2 separate regions of the Homo sapiens genome follow, and region 1 is linked to region 2. Evidence: fine-mapped expression QTL. A gene starts in region 2. The other region holds a variant in brackets. All regions are shown on one strand. Distances are from middle to middle. Region 1 overlaps CEMIP2 (cell migration inducing hyaluronidase 2). Region 2 holds the start of CEMIP2 (cell migration inducing hyaluronidase 2).

What was found. PIP is the estimated chance that this variant, and not a neighbour inherited with it, causes the effect.
Region 1: its variant is the best candidate, but not a certain one, in a credible set for the expression of CEMIP2 in monocytes (BLUEPRINT, PIP 0.52).

What each region holds. Positions count from the first base shown.
Region 1 is chr9:71,691,773-71,696,156 of GRCh38, reverse strand. It overlaps CEMIP2 (cell migration inducing hyaluronidase 2), which reads left to right. Exons shown (of 24, transcript NM_013390.3): 21 at 1,550-1,648. Among named protein-coding and RNA genes, the nearest start is that of CEMIP2, 75 kb to the left of the region's middle. The variant T/G (reference allele first, on the strand shown) is at 2,537.
Region 2 is chr9:71,766,366-71,770,749 of GRCh38, reverse strand. It overlaps CEMIP2 (cell migration inducing hyaluronidase 2), which reads left to right and starts at 2,237. Exons shown (of 24, transcript NM_013390.3): 1 at 2,237-2,393. RefSeq lists enhancers at 1,216-1,897, 1,898-2,579 and a silencer at 1,473-2,142.

The sequences.
Region 1 (4,384 bases), 75 kb after region 2:
TTGGAAATATTCTAGGCCTATGTTGTTAAATGATTCCATGCACTCATACTTAGCATTCTTTATCTTTTGTGCATGAAGCATTGATCAGAATTCATTTTTTTAAAATGTATTGATTACTGACTTTGTGCAGTTGCAAAGTAGTTGAAGTCGCTGGGAACATCGCTTTTACTTGAAAATTTGTGGGTAATTTTTTTTTTCTTAAATATAGAGGCGGGGTCTCACTATGTTGCCTAGGCTGGTCTCAAAGTCCTGGGCTCAAGCGATCCTCCCACTTTGGCCTCCCAAATTGTTGGGATTACAGATGTGAACCACCATGCCCGGCCTAATTTTTGTTCTGACTGTCAAAACCAAACACATTTATATTAGGAGTAAATAGGAAAATTCACAGGAATTTTTGACCCCAAACTTGGAGACTTCAAAGAACTACCCAGCTTCCGACTTGGGATCATTTTGACTGTTTATTTTTTGTTTTTTGTTTTTTTTGAGATGGAGTCTCACTCTGTCGCCCAGGCTAGAGAGCAGTGGTACGATCTCAGCTCACTGCAACCTTCATCGCCCAGGCTCAAGCAATTCTCCTGCCTCAGCCTCCCAAGTAGCTGGAACTACAGATGTGTACCACCTGCCTGGCTGATTTTTGTATTTTTAATAGAGGCTGGAGTTCGCCATGTTGACCAGGCTGGTCTTGAACTCCGGACCTAAGGTGATCCACCCATCTCAGCCCCCCAAAGCGCTGGGATTACAGGCATGAACTACCATGCCCGGCTGATTGTTTATTCTTGCAGGGAAGTTTTTAACATTGGTTTATATGGACAGTGTACCTCTAAGTGTTAAATTGTGTGAGAGTTAAGTGTTTTTGAATGAGAAGAGAGCCCTTAGGGAGGAGACAGGTTTTGGAGACTGGGAGTAATTTGGAGGAGTACAGGGAAAAGGGAAGGGCATTCCTGGGAAGGGAACAGCATCAGCAAAGGCAGAGTGGCAAGGAAGAGGGTGGAGTGCTTGTGGGAAAGTGAGGCCCTGCCTGAGTGTAACAGCACAGGGAAAAATAGGGGCCTGTCTATAAGGCACAACTCTGTTTATGGAATGCCTTGCAGGTCACAAAGAGGAGTTGAGACCTGCTCATGTTCAAAGTTAGTAAACGTTTCTTAACAGGGTAGTCCTTGTTATCTACACTTCTTTCCTCATTCCTAGAGTGACTGAGGGACCATGGTCTGAAAAAAACTTTAAAAAATATTTGTGCCTGTTTTTCCATAAAATGTTTACAAAGATTTAAATATAAATATAAAGCACATTTATTTAATCAGTTATGGAACTGAAGTGAACAACAAGAATAATATTTATTTGAAACTGGGATTGCTCCAGAAAATGAGGAACAAATATATACTTACTGTGTTAAGAATATCAAGATGGAATTCTAGGTCATGAAATATGTACAAAAAGTTCAGAATAAGAAATACAACCACTGGCTTTAATTATAATTAACTTTATATTGAGGGAACCTTTTGGAGGAAGGTAAGAGTTGCCATAAATATGGAACTTCTTCTCTGTCTAGGTGGTGTTTACTAGTGATCCTCATAAAAGTTACCTCCCTGTGCAATTCCAGTCACCTGATAAAGCAGAAACCCAGCGTGGAGACCCGTCTGTTATTTCTGTAAGTACCATCTGGTGTTGTCTTAGTCTGTTCTAGGTGGTATAACAAAATGCCATAAACTAGGTAGCTTATAAACAACAGAAATTGGCTGGGTGCGGTGGCTCACACCTGTGATCCCAGCACTTTGGGAGGCCAAGGTGGGCAGATCATAAGGTTAGATCGAGACCATCCTGGCTAACATGGTGAAACGCTGTCTCTACTAAAAATACAAAAAATTAGCTGGGCGTAGAGGCGGGTGGGTGCCTGTAGTCCCAGCTACTCGGGAGGCTGAGGCAGGAGAATGGCCTGAACCCGGGAGGCGGAGACTGCAGTGAGCTGAGATCGCGCCACTGCACTCCAGCCTGTGCAACAGAGTGAGACTCTGTCTCCAAAATAAATAAATAAATAAATAAATAAATAAATAAATAAAAATAAACAACAGAAATTTATTTCTCACAGTTCTGGAGGCTGGAAAGTCCAAGGGCAAGGCACCAGCAAATTGAGTGTCTGGTGAGCCTGGTTCATAGATGGTGCCTTCTTACTGCGTCCTCACAGGGTAGAACGGTCCAGGGGTCTCTCTCAGCCTTCTTTTATAACAGCACTGATCCCATTCATGGGGGTTACACTGTTGTGTCCTGATCACTTCCCAAAGATTCTACCTGCTAATACTGTTACCTTGGAGATTAGGATTTCAACATAGAAATATTTGGCAGGACACAGACATTCAGACCAAAGCAGATGTGTACACCGTCACAGCTTCTTGCTTTTATCTTCTATCTTGGTGACATGAATTACTTCTGGCTATAGTCACTGGTTTGTCATCACATTTTCTATTGTTGGTAGCAAGCAATACAATAGAGGTATAAATAACTCCTAAACATTTGTGTTTTTAAATACATTTAAGAAATG[T/G]TTTTTTCCTGAGTAGATTGTGTTTATTCATTAACCTTATTCTTTGAAACTTAAAATAAGCTTCAAGATTGTTTAAGATATGGGAAATGAAAGTTTTAACATCTCTTCGGCCTTTTATTTTAAGGTTGCCTCTTCTCTATTTTTTCAGTTGAGGAAAATGAAGATGCAAAGTGTTAGTTGTCTTTTCTAAGTGGCTTGATGGAAGTATAGACATGAGTTGCAGTGTCAACACTAGCATTTGCGCATAGAGCAAGGTTAGCCACTGAGAACCAGGTCTCAGCATGTGGCCTGTCCAAAATCAGGTTGACCTAGGTGCCACCATACAAAGAACTCTTTGGGTGACAGGTATCCAGCCTTTCAGGTAATACTCAGCCAAGGCCTGTGCCATCTCATGTGGTCTTTTTAGGGGCTTGGTTTTTTTAGTGGTGGGCAACATAATCACAAATCCACATATATGTGGAGAAAATTAAATTTTACTTTTTTTCTTAATTTTTTTATTGTCATAAAGTACACATAAACTTTACTATCTTAACCATTCTCAAGTGGGCAGTTCAGTGGCATGAAGTCCATTCATATTGTTGTACAACCATCACTACCATCCAGCTCCGGAACTTAAGTTCTACTTCCCAACTCTGAATTAAGACTATCCCTATGTAACTGTAGCTCAAAGACTCTTGGTTTTTGTTGTTGTTGTTGTCGTTTGTTTGTTTGTTTGTTTTTGAGACAGGGTCTCCCTCTTCACCCAGGCCAGAGTGCAGTGGCGCAATCTCGGCTCACCGCACCCTCCACCTCCCAGGCTAAATTGATCCTCCCACGTAGCTGGGACTAAAGGCACATGCTTTAGTCCCACTTGGTTAAGTTTTAAAATATTTTTTATAGAGATGGAGTCCCACTGTGTTGCTCAGGCTAGTCTTGAACTCCTGGGCTCAAGTGATCTTCCTGCCTTGGCCTTCCAAAGTGCTGGGATTACAGGTGTGAGCCACCACACCAGGTTAAAGTTTCTTCAAGTCTGTGTTTATGCTTGTTCCCCTCCTTTAGCAGTCCTGCATTTTGTAATACACCCGTGATGTAATTTTATTGGCATGAAATTTGCTAGCTCAGCATCTGAATGCAGTCAGCTGCATGAGGAACCTGATCCCAGCCTGTTAGCATGGTAACTGGTGGGAGTTGCATGAGGGAAGCAGGTGGGTGCTGAGTCTCACTGTTCTAGTAGTTTACTAGGTAATAGAGAGAGAGAGAGAGAGAGAGAGAGAGATGGGGGGTAGAGAGAGAGAGAGAGAGAGATGGGGAGAGCGTTTTGCCAAAAAAAAAAAAAAAAAAAAATATCAGGCAGGCTATGCCCCAGAGTCTGAAAACATTGTTTGACTCTGTTGTTACACACTGGGTGCCTGGGACTCTAGAAAAGTCATATTTATCCCCAATGCTTTTTACATTCATTATCTGAAAACTCTTCCCTAAGATCTGGGATTGCATTAGGGGTTTTTGGTTGTTTTTTTTTTTCTTTTTTTTTTTAAGATAGAGTCTCGCTCTGTCATCCAAGCTGAAGTGCAGTGGCTTGATCTTGGCTCACTGCAACCTCTGCCTTCTGGGTTCAAGAGATTCTCCAGCCTCAGCCTCCCGAGTAACTGGGATTACAGGTGCTAGGCACCATGCCCAGCTAATTTTTTTATTTTTAGTAGAGATGGGGTTTCACCATGTTGGCCAGGGGGCTGGTCTTGAACTCCTGACCTCAGGTGATCCACCCTCCTCAGCCTCCCAGAGTGTTGGGATTACAGGCATGAGCCACTGCACCCAGCTGCTTTGGGGCTTTTTTTTTAAGACAGTGTCTTGCTATGTTGCCCAGGTTGA
Region 2 (4,384 bases):
CTTCTGGAAGCAGGAGACTGCGCTCAGTTTCACTGGGCCAAAATCAAGGTGTCAGCAGGATCTTGCTCACTTCAGAGTTTCTAGGGGAGAATCCTTGCCTCTGTGCTGGCATTCCTTGCCTTGTGGAGGCATCGCTTCAATCTCTGCCTCCACAGTGGCCAGCCCTCCTCTGTGTGTGCTAACCACCCCCTTTCCCCTTATAAAAGTACATGTGACTGCAGTTAGGACCCATCTTGATCATCCAGAATAATCTCCCCAACTCAAGAAGACCCTTAATTGAATCACATATGCGAAGGCCCTGCTTCTGTCTATGTAAGGTAATATGCACAAGTTCCAGGACTTAGAACCTGTTATCTCTGGGGAGGGAACATTTTTCAGCCTAGCACACGGGTGACACAGTTTCTATCTTTATTAAGCACAATCCAAAACACCTTTGGACCATGAAAACAGTCTTTTGTCCCTTCCATCTTGTTATTCAAAACTATGTTCCTTATTTTAAAAACCTTTCCTCCCTGCCTATCCCAGAAGGGACAGCGGCTCTCAAAGGCAGCTGGGTGAAGTTTCTGTAAGATCTCAGCACTAGCTCGCGCTGCTGTTTTGGAGGCATCTTTCCAAGGCTTTAATTAATTAGAGGATGCATTCTAGCCCTGTTTCCCAAACTTACATATTCCCGATACCTCTGATTCAGTAGATTGCGCGACGTCTGGCAATCCAATTTTTTCTAAGTGCCCCAGGGGATTCTTATCATCAGCCAAGATTTGGAAACAGTAATTTCTTATACAAAGTCCTGAACTAATACCCTTGAAATAGGGGATTCCCCTTCACTGCCGGGTGTGTCGCGGTTACAGGACTGAGTTTGTTGAGGGAGGAGGAATGAACAACCCTGAAAACTAAACTATCCTACCTTGTATATTATTCACTGAAAGAGTTTCCTGGAGGGAAAACTTCCAATTCCAATTAAATCGAGGATGACGACGGCCCGGATTTGGCAGTCCTGCAGCTGTCACTAGCTCGGGACCTCGTGCGTCTGAGTGATCCAGCCCGGGCCGCGCCCTCACCCAGAGCCAAGGCTGTGAGAGCAGCTCCAGCGAGGGGGCAGGGTGGCGGCGGCAGGGCTGCTTCAGGGCCGGTGCCGGTGTCCTCAGAGCGGCGTTTTGGCACTGGGGTGGGCCGGGGCGTGGCTTTCGGCGCCACCTCTGCAAGCGGCCGCCACTCCAGAGTGGCGCAGGTAGGGGGCGTGGGAAGACCTAAGTATATTTATTCCGGCCTGCGAGCGGGATGCTGGGGTTGCTCCAAGGGACCAGAAGAGCTGCCCTGTGTCCCAGAGCAGGCTGGTTCTTCTGACAGCGCTGAGAACCTGGCGCTCGCGCCTGGCCAGGTAGGGGCTGTGACTGGACGCTCAGAACATTTGTGGGAGTGTGGAAATCTCTTTACGGGTGATGGGGCTCAAAGTCTGACGCAGCCGAGGGTTGATGGGGTGCAGTCACGCTCAGCCAGGGGACTTTGGGGGCGCAGTGTCAGGCTCAGCCAGGGAGTGACAGGCGCAGTACCAGCCTTATCTGGGGGTGCTGGAGGCACAGGCTCCGGTTCGGCCAGGCGGGTGTGCGCGCCCAGGAAGGGTAGGAGCCTGCAGCCGCAGCGGGGGGCGCTGGCTGGGGCTCTGCCCCGCCGGCAGTGCGCTCGGGCGCTGTTCCAGCGCGCGGCAGCGAGTGGCGCTGAGCCTCCGCTTTCGCAGCTCGCGGGGAGCGGGGCCGGCGGGAGGGGCCGGGCGGGGCCACCGCCTCCTCTGATGGCAGGCTCCTCCTCTCCCTCCGCCTCCCTCGCTCTCCACCGCCCGCCCGCCCGCCCGCCCAATCCACAGTTCCCGGCCCAGCCGAGCCGGGCTGCTTGTCTGGCCGGCGGAGGCTGAGCGCGACCCTAGCAAGCCGCGGCGCCCGCCGACCAGGGACAAGAGCGACTCCTGGGACCCCACTCTGCCCCGCGCCGCCGCCTCCTCCCCTGTTGTCGCGGGGACGCTCAGGCCCGCGCCGCCCGGGCCACGATTCTCCTCCTCTTTCTCCCGGAGGGGAAGGAACGGAGAAAGCCGAGCGGCGGCTCCGGGAGAGAGCGAGCCGAGGCCCCTGCCCCCGAGGCTCGGGGCAGGAGGAGGAGGAGGAGGAGGAGGCGGAGGCGGAGGGAAGTGCGCGTCACTCTCGGGAGGAGAGTATTTCACCTCCAGGCAGAGGCTGCGGCTGCCAGTTGAGTACGAGCGGCAGCTGCGGGCGCCGGCAATCGAGTGGCTTCCTGGCCATGGAGAGGAGATCTGGACCCGAGGACGCCAGGGACTCCTCTCCGTCTCCCTGGACCGCTGTGTAGGCACCTGAGTTAACGGACGCTAAGCGGGGTAGGGGAAGGTAAGAAGCGACTCGGTCACCCGCCCCCCCACCCCGCTCCACCTCGTTTGCTGCCCTCGGGGGCCACTGCGGGGACGCAGACCCGGGTCTCGCCCACCTTTTCTGCTCCCGGCGGCCTGGCCGGCTCCGGCGTTGGGCATTTCTGCCGAAAAGGAAAACGTCCTCCCGCCCTTCCCCCGTGCGCCTCCTTTCCCGGTTTCATCTCTGGATTGGGACTGACCCGACTCCCCAGGAGTCAGTCCTCTCTTCTTAAGAAAGGGTCCTCGGGAACGGTGTCTTGATTTCTTTCTCTCCACTCTCTCTTTTCATTACGTTTACGGGGAAGGGAACAATGGACCTTTCAAAGTCGGTGCGAACAGCCTTAAACTTTCTGGAGAGGGATGGGGTGAGGGGATAAACCCCACAGTAAGCCGATTACAGTGAAAGGTTGATGGAATGTGCTTTGCAGTCCGGGCTTCAGTGCGCGCGCGCTTGTGCGTTTGGGGTCATCTTTGTCTCCTTACAATTCCCCTGGGTTGGTGGGTCCTCCGCCCTCCGCCCCCTGCCTCTCTGTTAGCTGAGGTAAGGTGAGGCTTTAAAATCGTGTACAGCTTCCTTTAAATCTGGGGAATAGCCTTAGCCCTGGACCCTATTCCCAGCTTTTCTCTGCAGAGTTGGGAGATCCTGGTAAAGGAGGGGGGCCCTCTCTGTGAGGACCCAGAGTGCTGCTGTTAATAGCACTAGTGGCTACACCCTTAGCGATAAAACCAAGGTCCTGAATTCCCTGGATGCTCTCTGCTGAGGGTTGATGAGTGTCACCAGACTTCGACCTGGAGCGGAAACAGCTCACTTGAATTCTCCGCAGGTTAGGAAAACAGACTTTGATATATATCTCCTTTTATCAGCAGTTGGGATTAAGGATAGACTGCCTAATAATTTTTAAAACTTTCATTGTGCACATGAGCTACTCACTGCCTTGAGTTCACTCCCCTTGATTCAGTGTGACAGAGTGATGCGCTGCTGCACAGTTGCATGTATTGAGATGTGCTGCTCTTCCCGGTAAAAAGTGAGAAGAATTTAGAGAGAGGGGAAAGGGTAGAGGCTTCACCTGAGCTGAGGGAGGCCTGACTCCCCAGAGCAGCCAGGCAAATCTGTTGGAAATGGCTCAGTGTTAAAAAAACACCTTTAAAATGGTTAGCCTTATCTTTCTTTGGTTGGCTAGAATGGAGCTACTAATGCTTATTTGACCCTTGAAGGACGCTTGTTCTTTTCAGAATTGGTCTGGGTATCATACTGTGGTTGTGGGTCTGATTACCTATACAAAGGGTTCTTTTTAGTTTGCATTTCTGGGCAAAGCAGAAGAATGTGTAGTAGGCATGTCCTCTGCTTAGTAAACATTGGGTAGCACTTTAGAGTGCTTTTCTCTTCACACCGAAATGACTTCCCCCAGCTTCTGTGTACCTGCATTAGAGGATCAGTTTGGGCGGAACTGGAAATCTGTCTTCTGGCTTTCTGTTCAGTCCTCCTGACGCTGTTTTTTTCTGATGTATGTGTGCTTAAAGGCTCAGAAAACTAAGATTAGAAGCGAATTCTGAGTCATCACCTGTTCTTATTAACCTGTGAATGAGATAGTGAGCTGAGGACTCTCCTGTGTGTGGACAGGGAAATAGAATCTGTAAATTCTTACATGGTGTTTATCTGGATATTCTGTGTCACAGTTAATTATTTGAGTAGTCTCCTTCCTTGATCTAGTCTGTAACCAGTGACTTTTCAGAAATGTCAGATTCATAACAGGAAACCAGAATGGGGCAACACTTCAGTCATGTTCTAATAGGCCTAATCAATGCTGTCCTCAAACAGCTATCAAGAAAAGACAAGCTGGAGGGTAATGTAGTCTTGTGGGCCATTATCTTGAAGTTGACAGGGTACTGCTTAGAGCTACATGCTTTGGGCAAGTTTCTGAAATTGAGAAAGACAAGCCACATTTTAGAAAGAGGAAACTTAGGCCGGGC